Linked DNA regions of Homo sapiens. The main gene of each other region encodes a partner of the protein of the gene in region 3 in a complex. Each region holds a gene or a part of one and is shown on either strand. Other genes may lie near its edges. A codon is read from its position in the direction of its gene.

Region 1 (7,014 bases), on a different chromosome or scaffold from region 3:
GGCAAAGGACATGAACAGACACTTCTCAAAAGAAGACATTTATGCAGCCAAAAAACACATGAAAAAATGCTCACCATCACTGGCCATCAGAGAAATGCAAATGAAAACCACAATGAGATACCACCTTACACCAGTTAGAATGGCAATCATTAAAAAGTCAGGAAACAACAGGTGCTGGAGAGGATGTGGAGAAATAGGAACACTTTTACACTGTTGGTGGGACTGTAAACTAGTTCAACCATTGTGGAAGTCAGTGTGGCGATTCCTCAGGGATCTAGAACTAGAAATACCATTTGACCCAGCCATCCCATTACTGGGTATATACCCAAAGGACTATAAGTCATGCTGCTATAAAGACACATGCACACGTATGTTTATTGCGGCACTATTCACAATAGCAAAGACTTGGAACCAACCCAAATGTCCAACAATGATAGACTGGATTAAGAAAATGTGGCACATATACACCATGGAATACTATGCAGCCATAAAAAATGATGAGTTCATGTCCTTTGTAGGGACATGGACGAAATTGGAAATCATCATTCACAGTAAACTATCGCAAGAACAAAAAAACCAAACACCGCATATTCTCACTCATAGGTGGGAATTGAACAATGAGAACATATGGACACAGGAAGGGGAACATCACACTCTGGGGACTGTTGTGGGTGGGGGGAGGGGGGAGGGACAGCTTTAGGGGACATACCTAATGCTAAATGACGAGTTAATGGGTGCAGCACACCAGCATGGCACATGTATACATATGTAACTAACCTGCACATTGTGCACATGTACCCTAAAACTTAAAGTATAATAATAATAAAATTTTTAAAAAAGGAAAAAAAAAAGAAAGTCAGTTTTGCTAGATATATAGTCCTTGGCATGCATTTTCTTTCTTTGAGTATCTTAAATATGTTCTCATATTTTTTTCTAATATTAAACATTGCTATTAAAAACACTGATAAAATCTAATTTTCTTTCCTTGTAAGTCACTTGTTCTTTTCCTAGATCCCAAAGGTTTGCTTGTAGTCTAAATATTTTCCAGAATATGTCTGTTGTTCATTGTTCTGGGTCAGTATTCTCAAGTGTACACTGTGTTCTTTTAGTGTGTAGTTTCGTGTCTCTTCATTTTAGCAATTATAGTATTTAGTAATTGAATATTATGAGTGTTAATTATTATTCTCACTTGGTTTTCTGTGATGCCACATAAGATTCCCTTATGTGGCATCTTGCTTATCTGTCTTCAACATTTGTTAGGTTCTTTTGAATTGTTTAAATCTCTTCATTTCTTTTTGGTATTTTTTATTAATCTACTCTTGTGTTTCTATTACAGGTTGAGTGTCCCTTATGTGAAATACTTGGGACCAAAGTGTTTCAGACTTCAGACTTTTTCCGATTTTGGAATATTGCTGATTGAGCATCCCAAATCCAAAATCCAAAGTAATCCAGTGAGCATTTCCTTTAAGCGTCATGTTTGCCTCAAAAAGCTGCAGATTTTAGACCATTTCTGACTTCAGGTTTTCAGATTTGGGATGGTCAACATGTAGTTTAGTCTTCATTTCCAAAATGATGTTTTCTTTTATTTCTAATTCTTTATTGAGTTTTGTCACCTCATTTATAAGCTTTGCTGGTTTTTCATGTATGTACCTCTTTCACGTTTGTATAACTTTTAAATCTTTTTAGCTTATTTGAAATTCTGGTGTATTGTTGGCATGCTTTCACTCTCTATATGACATTGTATTTCTAATTTGTAACAGCTCTTTTTATTCTCTTAATCTTTTATTTTGTAGCAATCTCTTCTCATTTCTTAGCTATACTATCTTATTTTTCTAACGATAGTAAGGACAAGCTGTTCTTAAAGTTTTCTTCTACCTGCCTAATTTATTTCTTCTAATTTCCCTGCCTGCTCCTCTGCCCCCACTTGAGGCCTTTATTATTTTAGAGACTTTTCTCAAATTTATGGTAGTCCTTGGCTATTGGCTCATGTTTAAGAGTTGAACGATTAAAAAAACTAATTAGAAAGTCTATGTGCCATGGGTAGGACTTGTTCACTTCCACACTTTACCATAAAGTAATCTGATTGAGCTGTTTCTTTGTGGAATCCTCTGCGTTAGAATCTTTTCATTAATTTTTTTTCTTTGAGGCTGATCGGATTCTTCAGAGAAGATTCTTTCAGCCCCCTACCCTGAGGGGAATAAGCTTACTCATAGTGCTTTGGCAGCCAAATGAGGAGAGGAACATTGTTCCTCTGTAAATTTTTGTTTAGGAAGGCTGTCTCAGTTGATGGTTTCCCGTAGTCCAGACTTTCATTTTTACTCCCTCCAGAGAACAACCTCTGGTAGCATACCTGAGAGGAGAAGGGACATCTGCTGAGCTATATGGAAGGAATGAGGAGATCTGGAAGGTTCTAAGTATCTCGTCTCTTTTTTCAACAGTTCCTCTTGTTTTTAGGTTGATTCAACTTCCTGATACACCTGTTGTTTTCAGTTGCCATATTTTTTGTGGGTTCTGCAGTAGAAATTAAACGTTTGCATTGAACTTTCCTGGGCCTATGAAGTCAGTTATCATTTGTCTGTCTACTTTCTAAAATGCCTTGCTATTGTCTCTTCTCTCATTCTCTTTGTCTTAAGGGTGTGTGTGTGAGAGTGTGTGTGTGTGTGTGTGTGTGTGTGTGTGTGTGTGTGTGTGTGTGTGTGAGAAGCCCTGTTCAGTGTTGTTTCAGGAGAGAGAGGAGAGGCTAATGGCATGCATTCATTTCACCCCAGTACTTGGACCTGTATTGTACAGTGAATGTCAGGGAAGTTACTCTTCAGGTCTCCTGATTCTTTTGGAGCAAATGATAAAACGTTTTTCTGTTGACACATTTTGGGCGACATAGCAAGACCATGTCTCTATTTTTTTTTTTTTTTTAAAAAAAGAAATGGCTGAGCACGGTGGCTCATGCCTGTAATCCCAGCACTTTGGGAGGCCGAGTTGGGCCTATCACAAGGTCAGGAGATTGAGACCATCATGGCCAACATGGTGAAACCCCATCTCTACTAAAAATACAAAAATTAGCCGGGCATGGTGGTGGGCGCCTGTAATCCCAGCTACTTAGGAGGCTGAGGCAGGAGATTCGCTTGAACCCGGGAGGTGGAGGTTGCAGTGAGCCGAGATGGCGCCATAGCACTCCAGCCTGGTGACACAGTGAGACTCTGTCTCAAAAAAAGTAAAAATAAAAACAGAGAAATGGTCATAAAGGAATCCTATGAACAATTATATGCCAGTAAATTAAACCATTTGGATCAAATGGACAAATTACTAGAAAGGAATGCTGTAGAACATGAAGAAATGTTCACCTGGTAGTTGACATTGTGATCCATTTGCAGGCTGTTACCTTCTCCTCTCAAGGATGCAGTGGAAGTCTCAACCTGGAGAAGATGCTATACAATGCAAGAGGTGAACTCTGCCCTTAGTAAAATCCAGCTGGTGGGATATTCTCAGAAAATTGTGAGTATTCATATTACATTTCAGTTATTCATGAATGCTTTCCATTCATATTGTTGTTTGTTGTTTGGAAGAATCCTATAGTTACGTTTTTAAAGCCATTCCATTGCTGAGGATCCAGAGCCTCTGTTCTTTCCTCCGTTCCGCGCAGGATTTTATTGGTGCTCTTTCCCCACCCTCACATCTCCATCACCAGCCAGCATTCGATTGGCCAGCGTGCAGGGAGTCCGGAGAAAGGCGTCTCATCCTGTTCACATTAGATTTTATAGATTTTGGATGGGTGAAACGGGAAGAGAGAAGAGTTTGTCAAGTGTGACTTTTGAGCTCTGACCTAAATGATAAGCCTTCCCATTTCTTACTGTCATCCTGTGCCCAGAGCTACTCAGTACCGAACAACAAGGGCCTAACACCTAACTGAAAATGAAAAAGGAAAGCCAAAGTGTGTGAGTCTTTGGTCTGTTTGGTAATATTTCATCTCTCCCTTTTAATGTGTGAACCTTGAGTGCCTGGGGACATGGAAGAGAGCTGAAGCTCTCAGGTGACAAGTAAATATTATAGGATTGCTTTCTTTGTCTGCCAGTTGATCTCCATCATCTTTCTGTTTTCCTTAAAACTTTCTAGTTTACTTTATTGATTGATTGACTGAGACAAGGTCCCACTTTGTTACTCAGGCTGGAGCGCAGTGGTACAAACATGGCTCACTGCAGCCTCAACTTCCCGGGCTCCAGTGATCCTCCTGCCCCAAGTAGCTGCTTGAGGACTACAGGCATGTGCCACCATGCCCAGCTAATTTTTGTATTTTTTTGTAGAGACAGGGTTTCACCATGTTGCCCAGGCTGGTCTTGAACTCCTGGCCTCAGCCTCCCAAAGTGCTGGGATTACAGGCGTGAGCCATTGCACCCAGTCTCTGGTTTACTTTAAAATAATTTTTGTTTTTAAACTGAGGATATTTCTGTTGTTTTTCCCTGCAGAATTACCTCATGTGACTGTCACTGTAAGCTCATTGCACATTCTTACTGTGGTTCTCTTTTAGGAGCTTTTTGGTGCGGTCCAGGTGACTCCTCTGAGCTCTGGCTATGCCCTTGGGAGCTCCAACTGGATCATCCAGTCTCATTACGAGAAAGTGTCTTATGTCTCTGGATCCTCCTTGCTTACCACACACCCCCAGGTAATTCCAAATTCTCTTCTAGCAACTCAGCTTTTTGGTTACTTAAGTCAAATTCAGAATGTATCCAAGGAACCATCAGCCATTTTTAAATCTTCCAAATATGGTTTTCTACAGATACTCTCTAGCCAAGGTAGACTATTTGAGTCTCAACATTTTGACCTACAGGTTTCTCTGAAATAGTCCTGCTACCTTGAGGGTCACTCCTAGGATTCTGAAATCCCCCAGGCCTTCCAAAGACCATAGCCTGATGTGGGACACAGATGGTTATGCATTTACTCAGCAAATATTAACTGTTTAAAATCCTTCCCAAGGGCCAAGTGTCAAGTGTCATGCACACATCTGGGTATTGGGGATTCAGTGGTGACCAACGGGCAAAGCATGTGCCCGTAGATCTTATGTTGTAGGGGAGTTGATGATGTTGGGGAGAGGATGGTGTATAGTAGGTAAACAAATAAAGTGCCTGGTCATTTCCGATTGAGATACAAGTACTGAAAACAGTAAAGCAGGGTGATTTTCAGAATGATGGCCATTGGTTTAGATTGGGTGCCCAGGAAAGCCAATGGGAAGATCTCACTTGAACTGAGACCTGGAGAGATAAACCATGTCGGCTGGGCGCGGTGGCTCATACCTGTAATCCCATCATTTTGGGAGGCCGAAATGGGATAACTGCTTGAGCCTAGGAGTTCAGGACCGGCCTGGGCAATATGGCAAAACTCTGTCTCTACAAAAAATACAAAAATTACCCGGGTGTGGTGGCACACGCTGTGGTCCCAGCTACTCAGGAAGCTAAGGCAGAAGGATCGCTTGAGCCTGGGAAGCGGAGGTTGCAGTCAGCCGAGATTGCGCCACCGTACTCCAGTGCGGGTAACAGAGTGAGATTATGCCTCAAGAAAAAAAAAAAAAGGCCGGGTATGGTGGCTCATGCCTGTAATCCCAGCACTTTGGGAAGCCAAGGCGAGTGGATCACTTTAGGTCAGGAGTTCAAGACCAACCTGGCCAACATGGTGAAACCCCATCTCTACTAAAAATACAAAAATTAGGTGTGATGGTGTGCACCTATAATCCCAGCTACTTGGGAGGCTGAGGCGGGAGAATCACTTGAACTCGGGAGACAGAGGTTGCAGTGAGCTGAGATCATGCTGCTGTACCCAGCCTGGGTGACAGAGTGAGACTCCATCTCAACAAAAAAAAAAAAAAAGAGAGAGAAAGAAAAAAGAAAAACAGAGAAATTAGCCACGTAAAGCCGTGAGTGTTTGTATTACAAAGGGATGGCCAGTGAAGGGCCCCTAAAGTAAGAATAAGCTGGGCATGTTTGAAGGGCAGAGAAGGCTATTGTGGTCACAGCGTGGAGGTCAGCAGTGAGGTCCAAGAGAGTGGCAGACACCATGTCATGTAGTGTTAGCAGGCTGTGAGGAGGAATTTTGGTTTTATTTTAATATGGAGAGGGAAACTATTGGAACGTTTTAAGTTATTCATTCCAGTCATATTTGGCAAGAAGCCTAGCACATATAAACATTGTTATGAATGTGATACTTACTCCTTTTTGGTATTTGTAAATAATTTACTGTTCATTTCCTGAATGTTGGTTATTTCTATGTTTGTAATAGGGAGTGGGGGGACATTAGTTAGCTGTTGAATGGGTATATAGATACATTAGGTAACTTGTGGAAGTCCATATTACATTTGTTTATCTACATCTATTTACGGAGAGAGAGAGAGAGAGAGAAGGTCTTGTTCTGTCACCCGGACTGGAGTACAGTGGTGTAGTCATAGCTCACTGTAATCTCAAACTCCTGGGCTCAAGCAGTCCTCCCAAGTAGCTAGGACTATAGCCACCACACCTGGCCTATTTATTTTTTAACATAACCTCAAATTTTTATTGTCTTCATAATAAAACCAAAAATGAAGCTAAGAACTGGATCACTTGGCCTTTTCTCCTTTTATCCCTTCCCAGTTAAAAATACTTGTATCTCTAGTAGCCAGCATTCTCCTAGATCTGCAGTTGGGCCCAACACTTAAGCTTTAGCACAATCTCGTTTGTAGTTTTAGCCTTTTTCCAGAAGATTGGCTTGGTCTGCCTACATAGCCACCCCTTCCTGCCATTAAGCCACTTTCCCTTGGCATACAGATCATCTTTTCCCTTCTTGTACCATGTCACTCTGTGGGGTTGGTGCCAACCATGCTTCTTACACAAAGTCCAGTGGGTTTGAAGAACATTCACCATGTTAGAGCACTATCAGTAAAGAAAGAAAGAAATTATTCATTTTTTAATTACAAATAAAAATTGTATATATTTATGGTATGCATGATGTCTTGATATGTGCATGCATTATGGAATGGCTAAGTCAATAATTAAC
Region 2 (7,533 bases), on a different chromosome or scaffold from region 3:
GGATTACAAGCATGAGCCACGGTGCCCAGCCTTACACTAACATTTTGCTCTACCTATCTCTGAGGATTGTGGTAGCCTTTGGGTTTAGAGGTCACACAAAGGATCTACTCCATTTTTTTGAGACAGAGCAAGACACTGTCGCCCAGGCAGGAGTGCAATGGTGCAATCTTGGCTTGCTGCAATCTCCACCTCCTAGGTTCAAATGATTCTCTGACTGACACCCAACATGCTGGGATTATAGGTGTGTGCCACCTCCACCTACTACGTTCAAGCGATTCACCTCCCTGACTCCCAACTAGCTGGAATTACAGGTGTGTGCCACCACACATGGCTAATTTTTGTATTTCTAGTAGAGACAGGTTTTGCCATGTTACCCAGGCTGGTTTCGAACTTCTGGCCTCAAGTGATCCCTCTGCTTCAGTCTCCCAAAGTCCATTCTTTATTAGAAAACAAATATCAGACATGGCATGGTGGCTCATGCCTGTAATCCCAGCACTTTGAGAGGCTTAGGCAGGCGGATCACTTGAGGCCAGGAGTTCAAGACCAGCCTGGCCAACATGGCAAAACCCCATCTCTACTAAAAACACAAAAATTAGCTGGGGGTGGTGGTGTATGCCTGCAGTCCCAGCTATGCAGGAGGCTGAGGATTGCGTGAACCCAGGAGGCAGAAGTTGCAGTGAGCTAGGATTGCGCAACTGCACACCAGTTTGGGCGAAAAGAGCGAAACTCCATCTCAAAACAGAAGAAAAGGAAACAAATATCCGATGGGCGTAGTGGCTTACACCTGAAATCCTAGCACTTTGGGAGGCTGAGGCAGGAGGATCCCTTGAGCCCAGGAGTTCGAGACCAGCCTGGGCAACATGGTGAAATCCTGTCTCTGTTAAAAAATAATAATAAAATAAAATAAATTTCCTTACCACCTAATGGTGCGTTTTTATGTACTGAGCAATCACCTCCTTACAAATTCACATTTCTATAGAAAAGAGAGTAGAATTATTCTAGACAAGAACACAGTATGACATGATAAAAAGAATAAGGACTTTGGAGTCAGAGGAATTTGTATTCAATTACAACTTACTAGCTGGGGAAGGCCTTCTTCTATAGGAGGGCATACCAATACTTTATTATCACAGAGCTAGTCGATAAATCTGTTATTAAACATAACTTTATTATACGTATATGTAAGTGCTAGGCACATATCAGTTCTCCCTCCTCATCTTTTCAGCGGAGAAAAAAGAACAGAAGCACTAAGATCTCATTTAATCACTTTATGTTAACAACTGATGAAAAATTAAGTGAAGAAATTAGCTCTTCCCTTAAAATTCTTAGCCATTTCTATCCTAGTCCTCTCAAACTCAGTTTTCAGTCTTATCGAAGCTGTAGTTAGGTCAAAAGCTAGGAATTTTTTCCCTAAGTATTATATAAGGGAGAGGACAAGCAATATCAACTGTCATTCAACCACCAATAACACTTTAGTGAGCCAGGCCCTATTGTCCATCTCCAGGACACGGAGATGAGCCAGGCATTAGCTCTGCCATCAAGGACCTCCGACTGGTGGGAAGATAGGTACACCGGTAATGACAGCAGCACTGAACAAAAAGTACAAATAGATTAGTACCACAGAATGCTACAGAAACAGGTGAAGAAGAGACTAAGCTCTCGCTGAGGTTTCATTTGGGTCTTGAAGCACAAATGTTAAGTCCACTGGGTGGAGAACAAAAAGAAAGGGAAGAATGGCATGTATTCTGTGAGAAGAGACAACCAGTGCAAGAGTTTTGAGATATGCAAACACAAGAACACATGGCATATCTGGTCATGTGAGGATGGGTGGAAGAGGGCTGAGCAGTCTTGGGAAATGGGAACAACAGAATGTTGGGAAGAGAGGAAATCACATTGTGCAACAGTGCTAATGTTCTTAATGCCACTGAACTTTATACTTAAAATTGTTAAAATTGTAAATTTTATATTATGTATTGACATATTTTGTATTTGTATTAACATATTTTAATGCTGGATGAATGAATCCATGTAATGTTTAAGGATCAGTATCCTGCTGGATGCTCTAAGCCTTGCCACTCTACAAGTCTAAGGATCTAAGAATGCAACCAATGCACTGGTGTAAATTTGGGGGCATGTCAGGAATGCAGAATCTTGCCTCACCTCCTCTGCTTGACTTATCAAATAGAATCGACATTTGAACAACGTCCCCAGGTAATTTGTATACACATTAATATCTGAGAAATAGGACATCAGGATGATTTAGGATCAACCCTAGCAACATCTACGTGGAGACACATGGAGCATCACTGACTCCCGACAGGGACTCTGCCCACCTGTCACAACTTCATGGTGAGGAAGGTACTGCCCTCCTTCCTAGGTGAGCTGTTCTACCAATAGAGAGCTCTTCCCCTATGAAGTCTGTGACCCCCGCCTGCTTAGACTGCGCCTGAAGGAATTCTATAGACCCTTCTTTCAGCCCCTTAGAACCTTGTGTATATTCCAACTGGTCCCTGGGAGGTTTTTTTTTGGAACGGGGGTGCGGGGAGGCTAGAAGGGGCTCTGCTGCTAACTGGCTGTATCCTCGTACCCCTCCGGAAGGCTCAATGTCCACATCTGGAAAACGAGGATGCTAATGTAACGCGATGGAGCAAAGTTGTGTGAGAGAATAAAATGAAATAACGGATAAGACAGTTTCGTAAATTAAAAAACACTGTTTCTCCTAATAATTTTTTTAAAATCCTGTCAGACTTCACATATTAATGACAACAGCGGCTGCAAACTAACACGCCCACTAACTTGCAATATCAGAGATTATCAACAAGTCAGCACTTAACACGGGCGTATGGAGCCTCTTCTGTTCCGGCAAAGTGCCTGGGATTTGGATAATCTACCCTGGTCCGGATCGGTTCTGGATCTTTCCCGCCAGAGCTTACCTGAACCACTTTCGTGAATTCCTCATAAACCCGCTTCTTAAGGTGCGCCGCCATGCCTACCCGCGGGCCCTCTCAGCTTCCGTACACTAGGAGGGAGGCGGGGGTGGACGGATCCGGAAAACTTGCGTAGGCGCGGGGGGTGGGTGGATGACTTGCCGAGATCCCACAAGGCAGTGGGATTTGGGGAAAGAGCGACCGCTTCCTGTTGCTCGACTGCCTCGCCACTGTACGGACTGATTTGGCGGCCTACGCCGGAAGAACGGAAATAAGAGCTTCGCTTGTGGGAGGCGGGGCCTCTGGCGGGAGGAGCTGAGACTGAAAGGGTGGGCAACCCAATGGGAGCTTTGGGAGGCTGGTTGGTGGCCTCGGAGTGGCTAAGAGACTAGCGCGGCGCGGCGCGAAGGGAGGGAGGGAGGAAGTACAGGTTAAAGGGCAGAGGCGGGGTGCTCCAGAGCTAGAGGCAAAACCCGGAGCTCTGTAAGGGGTTTACGACTCGTGAAAAAACTCAGAGGCTCGGCTGACTTTCCCATCATCCTTTGCTGTACACGATGCTGTTTGTAGGTTTCCTGAGCACTGCCTTTGTTCAAGCTGTGCGCCACCTCTCTTGTTTTGGGGTGCCTTTCCATACTTCCTTATTCCAGTTTTGCAAAAGCTGCCATCCTTTAAGGCATCAATCCCTGCTCTGATAGCTATAGTACAGTAGAAGACTTCTGAGACCAAGGATAAAGCAACAAAGCTACAGACTACAGCTCTGGTTCTTGAGCAAATGGCTCAACTACAAATGCATTTATAATAACTAACCTGACAAAGATGTGACAATGGAGTGAAATAATGCAGGAACATTTTACGGACTGTAAGGTGTAGTGCACATGTTAGTGTCAGTAAATCCAAGGTCAAGTTTTACAACCTACATGAAACTAGCTGTTCATTATTTTGGTCTTTCAAAAGAATGTGGGCCAGGCGCGGTGGCTCATGCCTGTAATCCCAATACTTTGGCAGGCCGAGGCGGATGGATCACTTGAGGTCAGGAGTTCGAGACCAGCCTGGCCAACATGGGGAAACCCCGTCTCTACTAAAAATACAAAAATTAGTCGGGGCATGGTGGCACACGCCTGTAATCCCAGTTTCTTGGGAGGTTGAGGCAGAAGAATCACTTGAACATGGGAAGCGGAGGTTGCAGTGAGCCGAGATCGCGCCACTGCACTCCAGCCTGGGCGACTGAGCGAGACTCCGTTATCAAAAAAAAAAAAAAAGAATTAATGTGGGATAGTTTAAAAAAAAAAAAGCAGGAGGCTGAGGTGGATACAGAGGACCCAAAAATAAACAAAAGATAGTATTTATCCTCAAGGTCCTACAATCTGAGAAGACAGACACCCAAACTGATGGTGACAGTGCAACTGAAATGTGCTGGGTAACGGGAATGAATGTGGTTCAAACAGACCTAATTTCTTCAGAGTGCCTCAGGGAAGGCTTTCCTAAAATTAGAGGAAACTGGGAGTGGTGGCTCACGCCTATAATCCCAGCACTTTGAGAGGCCGAGGCGGGCAGATCACCTAGTTCAGAAGTTTTGAGACCAGCCTGGGCAACATGGCGAAATCTACTTTAAAAATACAAAATTTAGCTGGGCATGATGGTGGCCCACGCCTGAAGTCCCAGCTACTCTGGAGGCTGAGGCGGGAAAATCGCTTGGGCCTGGGATGTGGAGGTTGCAGTGAGCCGAGATCCAGCCACTGCACTCCAGCCTGGGCAACGGAGTGAGACCCTGTCTCCAAAAAAAAAAAAAAAAAAAAAAAAGGCTGGGCGCGGTGGCTCACCCCTATAATCCCAACACTTTGGGAGGCCGAGGCAGGCGGATCACCTGAGGTCGGGAGTTCGAGACCAGCCTGGCCAACATGGTGAAACCCCGTCTCTCCTAAAAATACAAAAACTAGCCGGGCGTCGGGGTGGGTGACTGTAATCCTAGCTACACGGGAGGCTGAAGCAGGAGAATCGTTTGAACCCAGGTGGCAGCGGCTGCAGTGCGCCGAGATCGGGCCTCTGTACTCCAGCCTGAGCAACAGAGCGAGACTCTGTCTCAAGAAAAAAAAAAGAAAAAAAAAGGAAACTATTTCTAATGCAGCTTTAAAAGAATGAGTTTTTCCAGAAACAAAGGCATCCCAGACCGCCGAGATAAGATATACAAATATGTCAAGGGAAATGAAAAACATTTAGCAAACAGTACCTTTAATAAAGCTTAGCTGCTATTATTACCATTATCATATTCTATCAAATCTAAGCTGCCAGCAATTGTAAAATCAATATTTTATTTATTATGTTAAGAAAAGAAATGCTGAAATTAAATACAATGGTTTCTAATTGCTTAGATTTGTTATGTATACTTACAGAAACAGCTCTTTTTAACTTATTTAGACATAGATTTGTATCTTACCTCGCACTGCTGTTTCCATGTCTTCCTGTGCACATAAGAACTTTTTAATGCCAAATTATAGGGTAATCTATTTGGAGATATATTTAATAGTAATTTAAAATAACACATGTAATTCCAAAATTGCACAGAGCTCAGTCGAAGCGATGACACCATGAACTGCTACGACTCAGTATACATATGAGCGATTGGCCAACATCTCCTGATTTCGGAGACATTAAATGTGCATCATAGCATCAATGATACAGAGTATTATCATCGTTATTAAATACATGGCGGCCAGGTGCGGTGGCTCACACCTGTAATCCCAGCACTTTGGAAGACCAAGGTGAGAGGATAGCTTGAGCTCAGGAGTTGGAGACCAGCCTGGGCAACATGGTGAAAACCTATCTCTACCAAAAATACAAAAAATTAGCTGGGCGTGGTGGCATATGCCTGTAGTGCCAGCTACTCGGGAGGCTGAGGTAGGAAGATTGCTTGAGCCCGCTTGGCAGAGATTGCAGTAGCTGAGATCGCACCACTGCACTCCAGCCTGGGTGACAGAATGAGACCCTGTCTCAAAATAATAAATAAATAAATAAATAAATAAATAAATGGCTTTAGGAAGGAGTTTGGTGCATTCCGAAAACCAAAGGAACTTCAGTTCATGTTGAAAGTTAAGTGCATGCAGGGAACAGAAGAAGCAATAAAAATAAAGTTGAGGCCAGGCATGGTGCCTCATGCCTGTAATCCCAGTACTTTGGGAGGTGGTAGGTGGGAGGATCCCTTGAGCTCAGGAGTTCCAGACCAGTCAGTGCAACAGAAAGAGACCCTGTCTCTATATTTTAAAAAAAAAAAATTTATATGGAGTTTATCTCTGTCACCCAGGCTGCAGTGCAGTGGCACAATCGTGGCTCCCTGTAGCCTCGATCTCTGAGGTTCAAGCGATTCTCCTGCCTCAGCCTCATGAGTAGCTGAGATTACAGGCATGCGCCACCACACCCAGCTAATCTTTTTGCATTTTTAGTAGAGACAGGGTCTCACCATGTTGCCGAGGCTGGTCTCAAACTCCTGACCTCAAGTGATCTGCCCACCTCGGCCTCCCAAAGTGCTGGGATTACAGGCATGAGCCACCACGCCTGGCTATATAAATTTTTTTTAAATTATAAATAAATAAATTTGAGAAGTTGGTATAGCCAACTTCTCAATGAGCCAGATTGGTATAGAAACAAGAACACACATTCTTTAATGTTGAATTGAAAAACCGTCTTTATTGTATTGATGCCATTTTCCTTTGACTTTTATTATTACTTATGAAAATACATTAAGGTTCACCTGTGAATGAATCCGTGAGGCTTCAGTCTTCTCTCTCTCTTGCATAACAGCAGCCCAACTTAGTAACTTCTTCTCTACCTGCTGGTTCAGAACAAGAGCCCCAGTGGTCTGGGGACAGTCTCATTACATGTCCAATGTAATGAACAATGACTATGTTCTCTAGGGCAACTGTTCCTCCCTTGGGGAGTAAGTCTTCCAAACCTACTGAGCCCAAGAATTCATAAATGAATTATTAGGTGTAAAAGAGAGAGGAACTGCTCCTATCTCCACCCTTTGATAACCAGACCCATGTTCTAACTGTGGGAGAAGCAGTACTATATTTTAGCTGTTGGTATAAGGCATATGCCACAAACAGCGGCCCAAACTCACAATGTGTTGGCTCTTGACTAGCGCTATAACTGAATCTCCAAAAGGTTATTATTCTGCTTTATTATAGCACCTACATCTGAATGATGGGGTTCCTGGCAAGACCAAGAAGTTTCTTCACTACAATTTTCTCAGCATAAAATAAGCTCCTTAATCAGAAGCAATGTGTGGAGTACTATGATAATGAATGAGGCATCCATAGATGATGGAGCTGGCAGAAATATTGCAGGCAGGGAAGTCAAATCTGAATTTGGAATATGAATCTATTCCTGTGAGGACAAATCACTGCTCCTTCCATGATGGAAAGGATCCAGTGTGTAGTTGAATGATTGCAAAAAAAGCCCCAAATCTCCCCCTCTCGGTATGTATACCCCTTGAAGTGTGACTTTGAAGGTGCTTTTATTAAGAGATGAAATCTATATTATCACCCTTTGAATTTGTGCTGGCCTTGTGACAGGCCAATACAATGTGGTAGAAGTGACAGCGTGCTAATTT
Region 3 (7,731 bases):
CGGCACCATATGCAGCTCCCACAGACCCTGAGGTGGGGGTGACATCCAGGAAGACTCTGCTGAATTGCATCCCCTTTCTGTCCAGGCCACTGTTGTGGCTGGGAGTGGCCCCCACCTCCACGCACACATCCCACGCAGGCCTCTCCTCTTTTGCATGGAGAGGCGGATGTCTGCCCTCCCAACCGTCCTCCCAACCCAGCCTCTTGGTTCTGGGTGACTCTGTCTCTCTCTTGTCTCACCTGTACAACAGGCATAGTGATGGGACCTCTCTGGGAGAATGGGCACACAGCAGCCCTGCCTCCAAGGCTGGCCTTTTCTCAGGGTGTTTGTTGAGCCCTGGGGCTAACACAGCCCCCTGAGCCTGGCAGTGGGGCCTCAGCTCCCTTGGAGTTAGGTGCACCCACCTCAGCTGTGTCCCTGGGGTGAGGGCCCTCCCCACCCTCACTGGGTGCCCCTGTGTCCCCCTGCAGGAAATCAGGCACCCAGTGCACCCCAGCGTCTCCCTCCTGGGAGGCTGTGTGATTTATTAACGTTGGAAGACATCACATAGATTGCACTCTGGAAGCTCGCATGTCTGCTGGGCCGTGGGGGCCGTCCCTCTGCCACCCCGAGGTGCTGGGGTCCACTGTGAAGAGCCAGTGGCCAGGCCCCAGGCACTGGATGGTGGCTGGGCTGGTTGTGGCTGTCTGGTAGCCTTTGGCTGGGCCACAGGGTCCAGACCCTCCTGTTCCGTGCCCCACGGGTCTCCTGAGCACTGTGGGGAGGGGGCATCAAGGGGCACGGGGGAGAAGGGACACAGCATTTCACTGGGTGTAGCAGAGTCCCAGCTCCTGGGGGCCTTGGGCTGGGCTGGGCTGTGCAGACCCACGGCCGCTGCGGGAGGCGGCCTGCTGCGTCCCTCGGGGAACTGGTGCCGTGCAGGGGCTACGGAGGAGGCTGTCCCAAGGGCGGGGACTTCCTGGGCCCTTCTGTGAGGAGCCTTGGTCTCAGCTTCCGGCTGTCCTGCCCCCAGTCTGCCTGGCACGCTGAGGGGCAAACAAGGCAGGAGAGGCGGGGAGAGCCCCACAGTGCCCAGACTGCTGTTGAGGGTTTCTGCCAGCCAGGGCATGGAGGGCACTGAGTCCCCTGGGCTCAAGGCTGCCCACCTGGGCAGACACGGGGTCCCAGGCACGGGCCTGAGATGAGGACACATCGGCTGGCAGAAAGGAGAAAGGATGGAGCCTCCACACCCCGGGACCTGTGACTTCACCCTGGTTCGCAGATGCACCCCACAGGCTAGGGGGTGGCGACCTTTCGGGCTCTTGCAGGCCCGGCCCCCACCCCTGCCTGCTCTGCTCTGCACCGCACCCTGGCGAGGCCTGGCTGCGCACGCGTGTAATAGGCCGAGGGGGAGCCGTGGCCGAGGCGTCTTGTTCCGGACCGAGAGGGTGGGCCTCTTCTGGGCTGGTCGCCACCTTCTCTGTCACAGTCTGTGGTTCCTAACCAGCTCAGCTCACAGGGGCGACAGAGGATCTCCTGTTCCCGCAGCGCCCAGAAGGCTCTGCCACGGGACTCACGGCCCTGGCCACCGCAGCCCAGATCTGCAGCAGGAAAGCCGGTGCGGCCCTGGCTTCCCGCCCCTAGGGCAGGTCCAGCAGGGAGTGCTCGGCGTAGAGCTTCTGGGAGACGTTGTAGACACGCTGGATGAAGGGGAGGGCCTCGCCTAGCATCTGCACGGCCTGCTCCGGGGGCCCCACGTTCATGGCCTCCAGGAAGACCTCGCGTGTGGGCAGCGTGCAGAAGGCCACGGTGACGGCGCGGCGCACGACCCAGGGGTGGTAGGCGGCCAGCGAGGCGTTGTAGGAGTCGGCGCAGAGCGCGGAGGTGCGTGCGTCCTCGGGGCTGGTACGCAGGCCCTCCAGGAACAGCTGCAGCCAGTGCAGGGCGCGGTGCAGGCGCAGCACCGTCCGGCAGCCAGACTCCGGGTGGTGGGAGCGGCGCTCCAGGTCCACCAGCCGGTTGCTCAGCTCGTGGGCCACCATGGCCTGCAGGCTGCGGTAGTGCTCGCTCTGCGGGCCGCCCCTGAGGCGCTCCATGATCCGCAGCTTGGAGACCACGTCCTTGGAGATGAATGAGAAGATGGTGCCCAGGCTGTTCAGAAACCTGTGGAAGGGAGCGGGGCTCGAGTCCTCGCCCAGGCCTGGGGCAGCCCGCCTGGGGTGCAGGGGACGCTGCCCAGCCTGCGGGGGCTCACACCCATCTGGAAACGGGCAGCAAAGCTGGTGGGGACAGGCAGTCGGGAGGCAGATGCCACATATGGGACTCGGGCCAGGGGAGCGCCCACCTCAGGAGGCAGCCCTGGCACACGCACCTGACCAGGCCCTTCCAGCTGGCAATGTAGGGGTCCAGCAAGACCTCTTCCTTCTCATCGAGACACTGCTTGAAACTGACCAGGACGACTTTCAGATTGAAACCTGTCTCCGAGTCATCCATTTTTTGATAGGAACGGAAATACAGTAGGGCTGGGGGGCTGTGTCGCTGGGGTCAGCTTGCTCTGTGGCTCATTTTCTGTGTGTGGAGGGGAACAAAATAGCTGCGATCCCATTGCCGCTCACTGAACACTCATGCCCCTCATGGAGCTTCCTCCCAGGAGCTGCCTGGCTCTGCTCCCAGCCAAGCCGCAGGCTCTCAGGCACACCACCCTGACCCACCCTTCATCAGGATTGCGCATTCAGGGACCTTGGCACAGCCCCTCCTGTGGATCAGGCCACTGACTCCGTGTCAGTCCCTGACCCCGAGAGTGGCCCCCTCTGGCTTTATCAGACCACTAGGCCCCGCTGTCTGCAGCAGGTGTCTCTGCTGGTGCTTTCTTGTTTTTGTTTCTCTCTCTAGATGCTGTATCTGCTTTTACCAGCTGGAGAAATACTAAGCCCCTGCCGAGAGCCAAGCACCATCCTAGCCATCTATCTGGGTGCATGGGGAGTGCGAGCAGCCATCTGGGGTGGGGTCAGATGACAACAAAGACAGGAAGTTCTGAAGTCCTAGACAAGAAAACAGACACAGCAGAAAGCAGAGACAGGTGGGGCCGGGGGTGGGGGGATGCTGCCGGGCAGGCTGCCCCATCTTCCTCACTGCTACATCCCCAAAAGCAGAAAAGAGGCTGTAGGGCTGGCACTTGCTGGATGGATGGACACGTGTTTTCACTCCTGTTGCTGAAACTCCATGTCCCACACAGATGGGTTTTACCACTCAGAAGATTGCCACGAGGCTCTTGTACTAGCCCTAGGGAGCCTTCCACGAGTGGCCCAGGCCCTGCTTTGGATTCTGCTGGCATTCACATAGTCACTCCACAGATCCACAGACATCCAGGCACCCATGCTTTGTGTGAGTGTTGCCAAGCACCCTTGCCCTGTCTCCCCGGGTGCCCCACGGGCCCGCACCTGCTCTGGGGAACCTGAGAGTCAGCTGCATTCCACCTCGACCAGGAAGAGGGCCTGGGGGTTCCTAGGCCGGTTGGTGCTGGGAGCCCTGTCCTGGCCTCCCTGGCTGCAGGGACTCCATCGGTGGGGGAGGGGGAAGGGCACCCAGCCGTGGTGAGAGCTCCTGGCCAGGAGCAGGTGGGCAGGTTGCTCAGCACCCTAGGACTGGGCCCTTCATCACTAGGGATCATGGGCTGCAAGCCCTGCCCAGCCCGTGGCCCAGGCTGCTGGAGCACTGGTGCCTGCAGGGTGCTGAAGCCTGGCGTTGCAGGCCCCACAGGTTGGGTTGCATGCTTGGCACCAGGCGGAGGCCCCAGATGTGAGCTCACCGGGCTTCAGGTGTGGGGGATGGCTGCTCCTGGGCCTCAGAAAGATGCAGTCCCATAGACTTCCAGCACGCCCCTCCCCTCCTCGGGCCTTAATTTTGTCCACTGAGAAGATGGTCTCTGAGGCTCTGGGGTTTCCTTCTTGGTCACCAGATATTCTGCGGGCCTTGCCTTCCTGCCCAGATTCGAGCCAGTGGCAAACAGAAGCTGCCAGGAGCTTCTCAGAGCTGTGGCTGGTGGCTCGGTAACAACAGGAAGGGCAGTGGCTGTGCAGGAGGCAGGCAGCTTGCCAGCCCAGGAAGGTGACCCAGGACACCTCCAGGCCTTTCCCAGGGCAGCCCAACGGCCCAAGGTCAGGGCCGGGCGCGAGGGCGGCCTGAGCACAGAGCACGGGGGCTGACAGCAGGCTGGGGGGCCAGCAGGAGACGGGGCCCCACGGCGCCCCAGGCCTTGTGGGTGGGACCAGACCCTGTCGAGCGAGCGCTACGAGTCTCACCTGGGAAGGGGGCTTCAGATGGCACCGGACTGGATGGGCACCGGTTCGGGTCCCTGCTCCACCGAGAGGCCCAGGAAGGGGCGGAGGCCCGGGGTGGTGTTGGGGAGGGGCCGACCTGAGCCACGGCTCCGTCCTGCGCGGGAGCCGGGTCCTCGGCCGCCCGCCCGCTCCGGCCCTCTAGGACGACGTCCCCTCCCGCTCCCGGCCCCTCGGCGACTTCCGGACCGTGCGGGTTGGGTTGGGCAGGTGCGGCCGCCGAGTCCGAGCCGCTCACCTAGGCCGTAGCCGCCGTGCGGGCCCCGTCCCCGCCCACCGCCCCGCCCTCGCCCCGCCCTCGCCCGCCGCCCTGATTGGTTGGATGCTGCCCAATCAGGAGGCCCGGCGCCCCGACCCGCGTTTCCGGCTAGCGCACCGGAAGTTGCAGCGAGGTGGTTGCGCCTGCGCAGTGCATCACCGCAGGCGGGCCTCGCGGGTCCGGGAGCGCGGCGGAGACGATGCCTGAGATCAGAGTCACGCCCTTGGGTGAGTGGGAGCCGCCGGGAGGGCTGTGGGGTGGGCTCCGTATGCGGCTCCGGGCGGGCTGGGCGCCCCGCTCCCTCCCGTTTCTCGTGGAGCCAGGTGCGCGCCGCGGGCGTCCTCCGGTCTCCTCCCCGCGCGGGCCCTGGTGGGAGCCGAGAGGCGGCCTAGTCCCTGCACCCCGGGCCTCCGGCAGTGACGCGAGAACGCGAGCCCCGAGGTTCAGGCGGCCGTGAGGGGACGTCGCAGATGGGGCCGCGGGGCCTTCGCGCTCGCTGTGCGCTTTCGTCGGTGCCTTGACCTCCCCGTGCCGCGCGCTGCCGCCTCCAGCCCTACCAGCCCTTCAGTCCCTTAGCCCCTCAGCCCCGCAGACCCTCAGCCCCCCAGCTCCCCAGCCTCTCAGCCTCCCAGCCCCTCAGCCCCCCAGCCCCTCAGCCCCCCAGCCCCCCAGCCCCTCAGCCCCGCAGACCCTCAGCCCCCCAGCTCCCCAGCCTCTCAGCCTCCCAGCCCCTCAGCCCCTCAGTCCCTCAGCCCCCCAGCCCCCCAGCGCTCCAGTCCCCCAGACCCTCAGCCCAGCAGACCCTCAGTCCCCCAGCCCCTCAGTCCCCCAGCCCCTCAGCCCAGCAGACCCCCAGACCCTCAGCCCCCCAGCCCCTCAGCCCCCCAGTCCCCCAGCCCCCAAGCCCCTTAACCCCGCAAGCCCCTCAGCCCCCCAGCCCCGCTTCTGCCTCCTCACGTCTTGCTTTCTGTCCACCACTCTGTGTGCTCACGCCCGAGTTACAATCAACTCTCACTTTAGCTCTTGTTCTACCTGATTTCTGCAACACTGAAAAAAATAGCAAAAAACGCAAATATGTACTCCTAAAAGTCCTGACAGTCTGGGCACTGTGGCTCACGCCTGCAATCACAGCACTTTGGAAGGCAGAGGTGGGAGGATCGCTTGAGCCCAGGAGTTCAAGACCAACCTAGCCAACATGGCAAGACCCCATCACTCCAAAAAAAAAAAATGCTAAAATTGGCAGGGCGTGGTGGTGTGTGCCTGTGGTTCAAGCTACTTGGGAGGCTGAGTTGTGAGGATTGCTTGAGCCCAGGAGGTTGAGGCTGCAGTGAGCCATGATTGTGCCACTGCACTCCAGCCTGGGTGACAGCAAAACCATGTCTCAAAAGAAAGTCAAAGTCGTAACAGTATAGAACGATGTGAAGAAGGAAAAAATTAGTCAAAATCCAGGGTCTCAGAAACAGCTGGAGGGACATGGTGTTGGTGGCCAGTCATCCTGATGTCCTTAGCGTTTTCCACAGGTGCCTGCCCTGTGCTGTCCTGGAACCTGGTCCTTCCACCGGGCAGGGGGTCGAGGGCACCTTCCAGCACAGACACCAGGACGGGATTCCATGTCCTCCCCCATGGCGTGAGCGCTTCCTCGGAGGGTGCCCCCCGCCCCGGTGTGGACACTGTGCTGTGAACACCCCTGGCCTGTGCACACCCCATGGCATTTTGCAGCTGTTTGCATGGGCCCCACTGCCCTCCCCTGCTCTCTGGGTCCTCCGTGGGGTCCTCCCAGCCTGCCCCTTTCCCATTTGGCCTCTTGGCTGCCTGTTCTGCCCACTCTCTGGACATCTGATCTTTCTGATCTTTCATGTGGCTTCAATTACCCGCAATCTGTACCTGGGTATATTCTCAAGGTCACCTCAGCCAAGGTATCATCAAAGCCGAAGTCCTGTTTCACCGCTTCCCTGCACCAGGGACTGCCTCGGGCTCCGTGTCCGCGCTCACTGGACCACTGCTGTGTCCTTGGGGTCACTCCCACGCCTTGGCCTGTGTGTGGCTACCCCCCCCGCCGCCGGTCCCCCTACCCACCCTGCCCATCCCTCCCCACCGCCGGTCCCCCCACCCACCCTGCCCGTCCCTCCCCCTGCTGGTCCCTTCCCTCCCCCCTGCCTGTCCCTCCCTGCTGCCTGTCCTCCCTCCGCCCGCCCCGCTTCTTCTCCTCCCCTGGACCATCCCTTCCCCACCCCGTCCCTCCCCCTCCCCCACCCTACCCCTCCCCTCCCCTGCTCAAAAGTTGGCTTCTCGGAGCAGTCTCCTGTCATGGTTCTGGAAGTTTTGAGGCTTCCTCATTCTCTCACCTTGCTCTTTTCTGTCATAGTAACCTTCGTCTGGCGTGCTTTGGGTGTCTTGTTTGTCTGCCGTCTGTCTCCTTGCTGACAGGGATATCTCCTCCTGTCTTCTGAGCCCTGTCCCCTCGTGTATCTCCAGGCTCTATTCCCGCACCTTTCCACTTTCCTTCCTGGGATCACTGTGGGTCCTGTCGGGAGGCGGGACTGCCAGTACTTCAGGACTGGGCTTTGGAATTCAGAAAACCAGCCCGGGCCCCATGCCTCGGGGCCGTGTGCCACAAGTGCCTCTGTGGCCTTAGGTCCCTGGGCATGAAGAGGGGCGGCCCTCCCTTCCCACAGGTGCCAGAGGGCCTCTGTGAGCCTGGCGTGGCTTGGGGTAGGAGATGCAGAGGGAGGAGACAGCTGAGACCCTGCTCTCAGAGAGCTCACACCCAGCGGGGGCAGGAACAGGCCTGGAAGAGAACCTGAGATCCCCTCTCTGTGGCAGGCAGCCCCTCGGCTGTGGCCCCGTCATCCTGATGTGTGGTGCTGGCTTTGGACACTTCGAGTGGCTGGCAGGGGGAGGTGGGTGGGATTCAAGGGGAAAACTGTTCACTGCCATCAGACTCCTGCCCAGGCACAGTCTGTGCAGGGGCCGTGACCCTTTCCTCTCGGGCCCCCAGGCCACATGAGGGGGCTGAGTGTGCCTTGGCTGGCCAAGGCCTCTGGCTGGAGCAGCTGGGCAGGGCTGCTTGGCTGTCAGGAGTGTGGGAGGGCTGCAGATGAGGGTCTGTGTTGGGGGCTGCATGGTGTGCAGTGGTGTGAGGCTCGTGTTGCCACG
Region 4 (7,905 bases), on a different chromosome or scaffold from region 3:
AATTAGCCAAGCATGGTGGCACATGCCTGTAGTCCCAGCTACTTGGGAGGCTGAGGCGGGAGGATCACTTGAGCCTGGGAGGTTTAGACTGTAGTGAGCCAGGGATCGCGCCACTGCACTCCAGCCTGGGTGACAGAGCAAGCCCTTGTCTCAAAACAAAAAGGAATTCAGGAGCAAACACTCAAATTCCTGCCCCCACATGGCCCTTCAAGGTCATCTGCCTGCATGCCTCACTCCTCCCTTGTCCTCTGATGACTAATACCATCCCCTGGACTCCTGATCTATCCTCACCTTCTATTCCTGGAAGCAGGAGCGTGTTCCCTGTGATATTCCCTCATTTTCACCCTCTCCCTCTTCAAGGGTTACTTTCCCATAGCTTCTAACTCTGCTCAAGCCTCTGTGTTTAGGAAACCTTCCCTCAGATCTGTGTTTCCGACTAGTTGCTGCTTTAGCTTCTTCCCTCCCTACATTTCGTGACTCTGCTTCCTCTTCATTTTTAGTCTTTGGGCCTGACCACCACCAGCAAAAATCCTGTAGCAGAGGTCACCAAGAGTTTCCCAATTGCCAGTCTTATGAATGAACTCAATTCCTCATCTGAATGATTTTTTTTTTTGAGATGCAGTCTTGCTGTTGCCCAGGCTGGAGTGCAGTGGCACGATCTCAGCTCACTACAACCTCCGCCTCCCGGGTTCAAGCAATTCTCCTGCCTCAGCCTCCTGAGTAGCTGGGATTACAGGTGTGCGCCACCATGCCTGGCTAATTTTTGTATTTTTAGTAGAGACGGGGTTTCACCATGTTGGTCAGGATGGTCCCGAACTCCTGACCTCATGATCCGCCCAACTCGGCCTCCCAAAGTGCTGGGATTACAGGCGTAAGCCACTGCACCTGGCCTTCAATTCTTCTCTCAATGATTTTATTGGAACTCTAGACAGCTACTAACTCTTTTTTTCTTGAGAAGTTCTCTTCTCTTGGCTTCAGAAACATTGACCTTTTCTGAGATTCCTCTTACCTCAGAGGCTGTTCTTTCTTAGTATTCTTTGGGGAGGGGGGGTGCATCTTCCTGTACTCATCCCTTAAATGTGTTCCCTGAGGTTCCGTCCTCACTATATTCTCCTCACTCCTTATATACCACACATTCACTAGGTGACTTTAATCACTCTACGCATTTCGACCGCCCTCTATATCCTTAATCGCTCCCTAAATCTATTTCTGATAAAGTATAACTGACCTCCTCCTCTGATAGCCCTCTGTAAACCACGAGACATTCTACAGCATTTATCTCTGTGCATATGTGCCTCCCTCTGTTAGACTAGAAGGGCAGGCCTAGCGCTTTCTCTCTTTCTAGTATCCAGGACAATACCTGGTAGATAACAGGAGCTCCACAAATGTTTAATAAATAAATAAAAGTTGACATACTCAGCATTTATATTTTAAGTTACCTTGTTTTCCTTTACAGAAAGTCTGAGAGGTAATTTCAGATGAAGAATTTCATTCTTTTTCAGGCTTTCATAGCCAGCAACAAAGACTCCTGGAAAAAGAAGCAGAGGTAGCTGTCACAAATTGTTAGAAAGATTGCAGACCATGCAATCCCCCGAAGTAAGGATACATTCCTTCACTGTGCAGCCTTGTATGGAGGAATTGAGTACCTGGTTGTGTCTTTTTCAGACAAGGTCTCGCTGTGTCAGCCAGGCTGGAGTGCAGTGGTCCGATCACAGCTCACTGCAGCCTCAACCTGCCAGGCTCAAGTGATCCTCCCACCACAGCCTTCAGAGTAGCTGGGATTATAGGCGTGAGCCACCATGCTCGGCTAATTTTTGTATTTTTTGTAGAGACAGGGTTTCCTTGCTTAGGTTAGTCTCAAATTCCTGGGATCAAGCAATCTGCCCGCTGCCTCAGCCTCCTGAAGTGCCCAGCCTGAAGACTTTTTTTGTTAGCCACGCTGGAATACAGTGTCGTGATCTCAGCTCACTGCAACCTCCACCTCCTGGGTTCAAGTGATTCTCCTGCCTCAGCCTCCCCAGTAGCTGCTGGTACACAGGTGTGCACCACCTCGTCCGGCTAATTTTTGTATTTTCAGTAGAGACGGGGTTTCACCATGTTGGCCAGACTGGTCTCGAACTCCTGACCTCAGGTGATCCGCCTGCCTCGGCCTCCCAAAGTGCTGGGATTACAGGCGTGAACCACTGCTCCCGGTCAGAGATCTTAATAAGAGGAATATTAGTGCTGATGGGGCATCAAATTGCTACAAGTGACTCTCAGGTGCCCAGAAGAGTGGGTTGGGTCCCTCTAGGCTTAGCTCCTGAAACCCAGCTCAGGAGTGAGATTCCCTCTCCTTCAGGGCTAGAAAGGTATACCACCTTTGTCATCAATCCATTCAAGGACTCGAGTGGCTCCTGACAGGTCGAATGCATAGAAATCCTGGTACCTGCACAAAAGGGACACAGAATCACACGATGCACAGCACTTCACAGCTCAAAGAACTCCAAGATGGCAGCCGCATGGTTCAGTGGCCCAAACTCTGGAGTCAGGCAGACGTGGGACTGAGTTTACTTCCCATTTTACTCCCTGTTTCTGGGACCAGGCCAGTCCCTTGATGTCCCTGAGCCTCGGTCCTCATGTGTGGACGTCCCAGGGTACCCAGATTTCCCAAGGTTGACGTGAGGAATCAATGAGATCATCTGTGTTCTGAGCTGAACTCAGAGGCTGGCGCAAACTAACTGGGCACTGCGTCTTCACAAGCGCGGCTCTTACTAGTAATCTCACAACGCGCGCACGCAGGAAGGAGCCATTTCCTAGAGATGGGGGCCTAGGCCCAGGCGGAGTCCTCCACGGTGGCGAGCCCCGAGGCCACAGCTGGCCCACTCTGCACCAGGATCCCCAACGTGCCTCCACCCACACCCATCCGCCCGCCAGGCAAGCTCCAGGCCCAGCTCCCATGTCCCAGCCCCGTACGATTTACAAGCGCAAGGATTCCACCAGCCAGTCGTCCCCAGGATCCATGGCAACGACCGCTTCCGGCGTCTCACTTCCGCCTGCGAGCCTTCGGGGGCCGCGCGGCTCTCGCGAGATGTGGGCAGGGCCTCCCGTTAGGGGCGGGGTTAACAGGCTGAGCTGCGGCCCGGCATGGGTGGGTTACGGGTTTTCTCCGCGAAAGCTCCGGGAAAAGTGACCTGAAATCGGGACTTTCCCGCTGTCAGCTCCAAGCAGGACCTGAGGACCAAATGATCGCCCGTTTTAGGGCCAGGTGTTTGCAGCCCAAGAGAGGGGCAATGAATGCTCCAAGGCCAGAAATAATACAGGACCGCCCGGTTAAATTCGAATTTCAGAAAAACGGTGAATAATTTCTTTCTTACGAGTATGTTCATGCAATATTTGGTACATTTTATTAGATAAAATTATTGTTTATCTGAAATTCGAATTTAACTGGGTGTCCAGTATTTTTATTTGCTAACGCTGGCAACCCTTCTGACGGCCAGAGAAGAGAGGAAGCGGCCGGCAGGGTCTGGATCCCAACTCGGCGCTCCCCTCCAAGTCCGGCGGGGGTATTGAGTAAAGCCCGGCAGTGTAGTGTCTGCAGCCCCCTTTTACTAGCGAGGAAACTAGTGACACTTGCCTGCGCCAGTAGGTGGCAGAGATGAGAGTAGAACCCCGCGCCTGGCACGAAGCCTGGCATGCAACAGGCGTTATTTGCTTGCTGAATGAATGGGTAGGAGGCCAGAGTCAGTGCCAGGCTGGTGCCATGGCATGGGGTATTCTGGACTTTTTGAGCCAGCCCCATCTCACTGAACACTCTGCCCTCCAGCCCCCTTTTCCTCCCATCCCCTAAAAGACGGGTGAAAGGAGAGGACCAGGCATTGTATGTAAAGAGCAAGGTTTTATTCACCAATTCAACAGGGAAGCAGGAAATACAGCAGGAACATAATCTGTGTCTGCATCAGCGATATTTCTGGTGACCCAGCCAGAAATCACAGTAATGGAGTAACAGAGATTTGAGCTCAGGATTTACATCCAGATGGGGCCATCAACAGGGTCCCATTCAGCACCTTCCCTGGGTGGGCACAATCTAAGCCACGCTGTTGTGTCTGCCCCATTATTGGTGTCATTTCTGCAGTATTTGTACCAGCAGCCTCCTGTACTGAAGAGAAACATACAGAAGAATTGAGCCAGGGAGGGGCTCCTGATAAAGATAGGGGCATCCTGCCATTCCTAAGTGCCAGATGTCTGCAGAGGTGGGCACCAGCAGGCTGTCAGCTGAGGCAGGCCCCAGAGCACCCTGAATTGCCTTGGAGGGGTCGGGGCAGTAGTTTTCTCAGAACACAGCCCCAACCACCCAGGGTGGTCATGACAGTCAAAGAAGATCGTGGAAGAAAATCCAAATACAGTGCTTGGTGCTGGGCTAGTGTCAGCGTCCTCACTCCCCCACCCCAGCTCTGCCCCAGACCTCACTCTGAAGCCCCAGACGTAGGCACTGCTGCTTCTGAGATTCTCTAGTTGGTCTGCATGTGTCAGAGCTTCAAAACCAAGGGCATTAGAGGTGACATTGTTTCCCTTCAGACTCAGCCAGCCCAAGCTCCTAGGCCTTACATCTGAGGTCCTCAGGGGCTGCTGGTTCTGTGCCTCAGGAAGTCAGGGATGTTGGTTGAGGCTGGGTTGGACCTTTTCTAGGGAATGCCTCTCCCTTCAAAATGCACACACTATATGCTAGGCACACTGGGGGATATGAAGGCGAGTCTACAACAGGTGCCGCCAGGGAGCTCACAGACTGATAAGAGCTCGCATCTACTAAGGGCTGTCTATGAGCCAGGCACCATGCTGAGCATTTGACATAAATGGTCTCATTTAATGGGAGATGGGCCTTATTATCTTCATTTTATGGGTGAAGAATATTGAGGCTTTAGAGAAGTTAAGGGACATTTCTAAGGTCATACAGCTACTAAGTAGCTAGGTTATGAGCCCAGCACGTTGTAGTCAAAACCCACATTCTACCACATCACACTGCCTTCTGCACACAGCAGCAGGACCAGGGAGGGTGGTGTGCAGTAAGGACAGCACCAGGAGCAGGGAATGAAGGAGTTGCCACTCAGCGGGGCTATACCTTGAGGCTAGCTTGGCTCCAGCTTTGGAGTCTTGAATCCCATAGATCAGTGACTGACAACCAATAATGATTTGGGGCCCTCTCCCCCAGCAGACATCTGGTGATGTCTGGAGGTCTTTTCAGTTGTCACAACTTGATGGGGGGGAAAGATGCTACTGGCATCTAGTATGTAGAGACCAGGGATGCTGCCAAACATCCCATGATGCACACGTCAGCCCTCACAAGAAACAGTGATTCAGCCTAGAACGTCAAATGTACTGAAGTTGCTAAACCCTACCACTGGATACTGAGGCAGATGAGAGAATGGGAAGAGCTCCAGTCCAGGTGAACAAGGTCCAGACTCTGTCTTGGCTGCTGACTTCTCTTTCCCTCTCTGGGCCTCAGGGTCCCATTCCGGCCACAAGCATACACAGGACACAGCAAAGGTGGACTTGACTAATGCAGCAGGGAACAGCATGGGTGGGACAAGACTGTGTAGACTGGGGGAGAAAGGTCCTGCTCCAAAAGGCTGATGATCCCAGTCTGTTACTTTAGACTGGGTGATGAGTCAGGGGAACTTCTTTCCCTACTTCTTGCCCCATGGGGTCTACTGGGAAGGTCAGCTTCCTTTCTTTGGACTGTTCCTCCTTTGAGCTCTGCCTCAAGAGGGAAAAGCCTGGAAACCTGGCTTTCTGGGGTCCACACCCATAATGTCCTAGTCAGACAGTCACACCCTAATACAGTACTGGGTGGTAATTCCTCCCATGCAGGATCCGGGGATGGCCCCAGCTGGGCCCTCCTGACATTGGAGCAGGGGCCCGGCTCACCTGGATTTGGGGTGCGGGGCGGCTGAGGCTCACGCCCAGAGCCTTCTTTAGCAGGAGGATTCCGAGCAGATCATGACTCAGCTGCAGTCGCTGGTCCCTCAGGGAGGTGTGGGGAGCTGTCCCCAATGGGGATGGGCTGGAAGGCTCCAGACTCTTCTTGCCCATGAAGTGACCTGGAAAGGAGGTGTCCAGGCACAAGGAAGTCAAGCAGCCAGGATCCTACCTCAGAGGAAAAGTTCCTCATCTCTCCCACGTTTCCGTTCTTGTAGCGGGAAGACACTTAACCTTCCTCCTCTTGGTGCTTCCACCTCACCAAGGAGCCACAAAGGTGTCTGGGTGGTGGCAAAGCCTGCTCCCTCAGCTTTTCCTGAACAGGTAGAGAGGATGGCACAGCTGGCAGGAAGGTGGGATGGTCCAGGGCCAGGGAGAAACTCTGCTAGTTGTGTGGGCTGCTTGGACAAGGGACGAAAAAGGGCAGGGTAGGAAGTGGAGAGTGAAGAGGCGCCTGGAAAGTGGAGGTGCAGCAAAAACACACCAGCGGTTAGAAGATTCGGTTAAGTCTCGCCTAAGGTAAGGGGCACCGGCTGGCAGTGGGATTTAGGATCTAGCCCAGCCCTGTCTTAAACTGGCTGCGCGACCTTAGCCAAGTCACTGACCTGTCCGGGTCTCAAGTACATATCTATTAAATTAGATGAGCCCCAGGGTTTTCCACCTGCTCCGACACTAGTGTCCGTGGCTGAGGAGCGGCCAGAGGGTTGAGAAGGAAATGGGGTCTGAACTGGATGAGGGGCGCTTGCTTGCTCCGTCCCCAAAGACTTACCGGTGGCCCAGAGGTTGCCTCGCGAGTGCACTCGGATCTTGCTGGCTCGGCTGCGGGGCTCCGGGAGATCCCAGCTGAGCGGGGCGACGCCGGCAGCGAGCAGGGCGAAGAGCAGGAGGCTGCCGAACATCCGAGCGCCCCCCGCCCGCCGGGCCATGGCTGTGCCCGGGCCGCGGCTTCGTTCGGGCGCGCTTCCCGGCCGCTGGGCTCCGGGGCTGCCTTCGATCCTTTTAAATCCGCGCCCCTGGGGGCGGAGCCTGCCCTGAGCAGCGGAGCCGTGCCCCGCGCCCGCCGCCCTCCCCGCCGTCCCCACCCTCCCGCTAGGTTACCAGGCAGGGGCACCCCCTTTGGGCCGCCCAGAGACCTGCACACCCACACTCTGGCCCGCACGCGGGCACCGCTTCCGCCAGGGGCTTCTGGCGGAAGCCCGCCACCTTCAGGCTAAGGACCGGGCACCGGCCAAACAGGGGCCCGGCCCCGGCGGCGGAGCCGCTTCCCCTGGCCCTGCCTTGCCACTCTGCCACGGCTTTCGGCCAAATAGGCACTTCAGCCCTCTGAGCCTCTCTTCATGAGGGTAGAGGTCGGGCGAGGAGCTCTCCTCCCGGGTAACAGGCTTTTTTTTTTTTTTTTTTTTTTTTTTCTGAGACAGGATCTGGCAGTATCGCGCAGGTTGGAGTGCGGTGGCGCGATCACGGCTCACTGCAAACTCAACCTCCAGGGCTGGGCTCAAGCCTCAGCCTCCCCAGAAGCTGGGACCACAGGCACACGCCTTCATGCCTGGCTTTTTTTTTTTTTCTTTCCAAGAGACTGGATGTCGCTAGGTTTCCCAGGCTAACAGAGGCATTTTTACAGTGTCCAGCCAAGTGCTAGGCACCAAAGGACTTCCATAAACTAATCCCCATCACCTCCGCCCTTTGGGGGAATCTGACCCGTGTTCACCTTGCTCTCTGCCCTCTCACAGCCAGCATCACAGTCTGGAAATGTTCTGGCACACAGTAGGTGCTCAGAATGGGAATGCAGAATGATGGAGGGTGGGACAAAGGGCCGCTTCTGAGGAACGGGCATCCAGCTGGAGGGCCTGGCTTATGGGCAGGAAGCAGACCTCTGGGTCAAGAAAGTGGAAAGAGCACTGCACCCAGGACTGCACTGCACCCAGGAGTCCATGTACAAGCTGTGACCCGGCT

The links.
Region 1: the proteins of INTS11 (region 3) and INTS9 are in contact, whole or in part, in a cryo-EM structure (PDB 8RC4), measured with the Homo sapiens proteins. Residues at the interface, in NP_060341.2 of Homo sapiens: His94, Gln97, Ala98, His137, Leu138, His139, Gln140, Thr141, Lys274, His277, Tyr278, Lys280, Leu281, Phe282, Ile283, Pro284, Trp285, Arg291, Phe294, Ser449, Pro450, Ser451, Ile452, Pro453, Val454, Gly455, Ile456, Ser457, Leu458, Leu461; in NP_060720.2 of Homo sapiens: Glu127, Gly198 (codon at 3,475), Tyr199 (codon at 3,478), Ser200 (codon at 3,481), Gln201 (codon at 3,484), Lys202 (codon at 3,487), Tyr231 (codon at 4,604), Glu338, Phe339, Ile342, Phe343, Glu345, Gln352, Lys354, Val355, Tyr356, Leu357, Pro358, Glu359, Pro360, Pro361, Arg511, Arg512, Tyr513, Glu514, Lys515, Ile516, Glu517, Ile518, Met519.
Region 2: the proteins of INTS11 (region 3) and INTS4 are in contact, whole or in part, in a cryo-EM structure (PDB 7BFP), measured with the Homo sapiens proteins. Residues at the interface, in NP_060341.2 of Homo sapiens: Pro183, Trp191, Lys194, Asp212, Gln288, Gln400, Gln404, Lys462, Met465, Ala466, Leu469; in NP_291025.3 of Homo sapiens: Leu159, Asp161, Thr162, Arg167, Tyr203, Gln207, Asp244, Ser292, Gly294, Trp296, Arg299, Lys323, Met326, Ser327, Asp328.
Region 4: the proteins of INTS11 (region 3) and WDR73 are in contact, whole or in part, in a cryo-EM structure (PDB 8R22), measured with the Homo sapiens proteins. Residues at the interface, in NP_060341.2 of Homo sapiens: Tyr206, Thr208, Thr209, Ile210, Arg211, Asp212, Ser213, Arg215, Cys216, Arg217, Glu218, Arg219, Asp220, Leu222, Lys223, Lys224, His226, Phe255, Arg258, Met259, Leu364, Val384, Glu385, Tyr386, Ser388, Lys418, Lys419, Glu421, Phe422, Gln425; in NP_116245.2 of Homo sapiens: Asp5 (codon at 2,988), Asp6 (codon at 2,985), Leu8 (codon at 2,979), Val9 (codon at 2,976), Ser11 (codon at 2,970), Leu12 (codon at 2,967), Tyr15 (codon at 2,424), Gln16 (codon at 2,421), Phe18 (codon at 2,415), Tyr19 (codon at 2,412), Ala20 (codon at 2,409), Phe21 (codon at 2,406), Asp22 (codon at 2,403), Leu23 (codon at 2,400), Glu50 (codon at 1,490), Leu52 (codon at 1,484), Arg59 (codon at 1,463), Leu68, Phe69, Pro70, Glu71, Arg72, Asp73, Phe74, Lys75, Val76, Gly79, Phe81, Asp116, Ser117.

What each region holds. Positions count from the first base shown.
Region 1 is NC_000008.11:28,809,970-28,816,983, reverse strand, and holds part of INTS9 (integrator complex subunit 9), read left to right. Parts: intron 1-3,371; coding exon 3,372-3,492; intron 3,493-4,522; coding exon 4,523-4,657; intron 4,658-7,014. UniProt on the Homo sapiens protein: Component of the integrator complex, a multiprotein complex that terminates RNA polymerase II (Pol II) transcription in the promoter-proximal region of genes.
Region 2 is NC_000011.10:77,991,657-77,999,189, forward strand, and holds the start of INTS4 (integrator complex subunit 4), read right to left. Parts: upstream 3,013-7,533; 5' UTR 2,988-3,012; coding exon 2,934-2,987; intron 1-2,933. UniProt on the Homo sapiens protein: Component of the integrator complex, a multiprotein complex that terminates RNA polymerase II (Pol II) transcription in the promoter-proximal region of genes.
Region 3 is NC_000001.11:1,321,652-1,329,382, reverse strand, and holds the start of INTS11 (integrator complex subunit 11), read left to right. Parts: upstream 1-4,722; 5' UTR 4,723-4,774; coding exon 4,775-4,802; intron 4,803-6,095; coding exon of another isoform or gene 6,096-6,206; exon of another isoform or gene 6,207-6,491; intron 6,492-7,398; coding exon of another isoform or gene 7,399-7,475; intron 7,476-7,731. Other genes in the region: CPTP (ceramide-1-phosphate transfer protein), read right to left, coding at 1,620-2,142, 2,351-2,472.
Region 4 is NC_000015.10:84,651,275-84,659,179, forward strand, and holds the start of WDR73 (integrator complex assembly factor WDR73), read right to left. Parts: upstream 3,010-7,905; 5' UTR 3,001-3,009; coding exon 2,960-3,000; exon of another isoform or gene 2,426-2,959; coding exon 2,358-2,425; intron 1,529-2,357; coding exon 1,440-1,528; intron 1-1,439. Other genes in the region: NMB (neuromedin-B isoform 2 preproprotein), read right to left, coding at 3,996-4,130, 5,902-6,074, 6,722-6,878. UniProt on the Homo sapiens protein: Component of a multiprotein complex required for the assembly of the RNA endonuclease module of the integrator complex. Associates with INTS9 and INTS11 in the cytoplasm, stabilizing the INTS9-INTS11 heterodimer and blocking the active site of INTS11.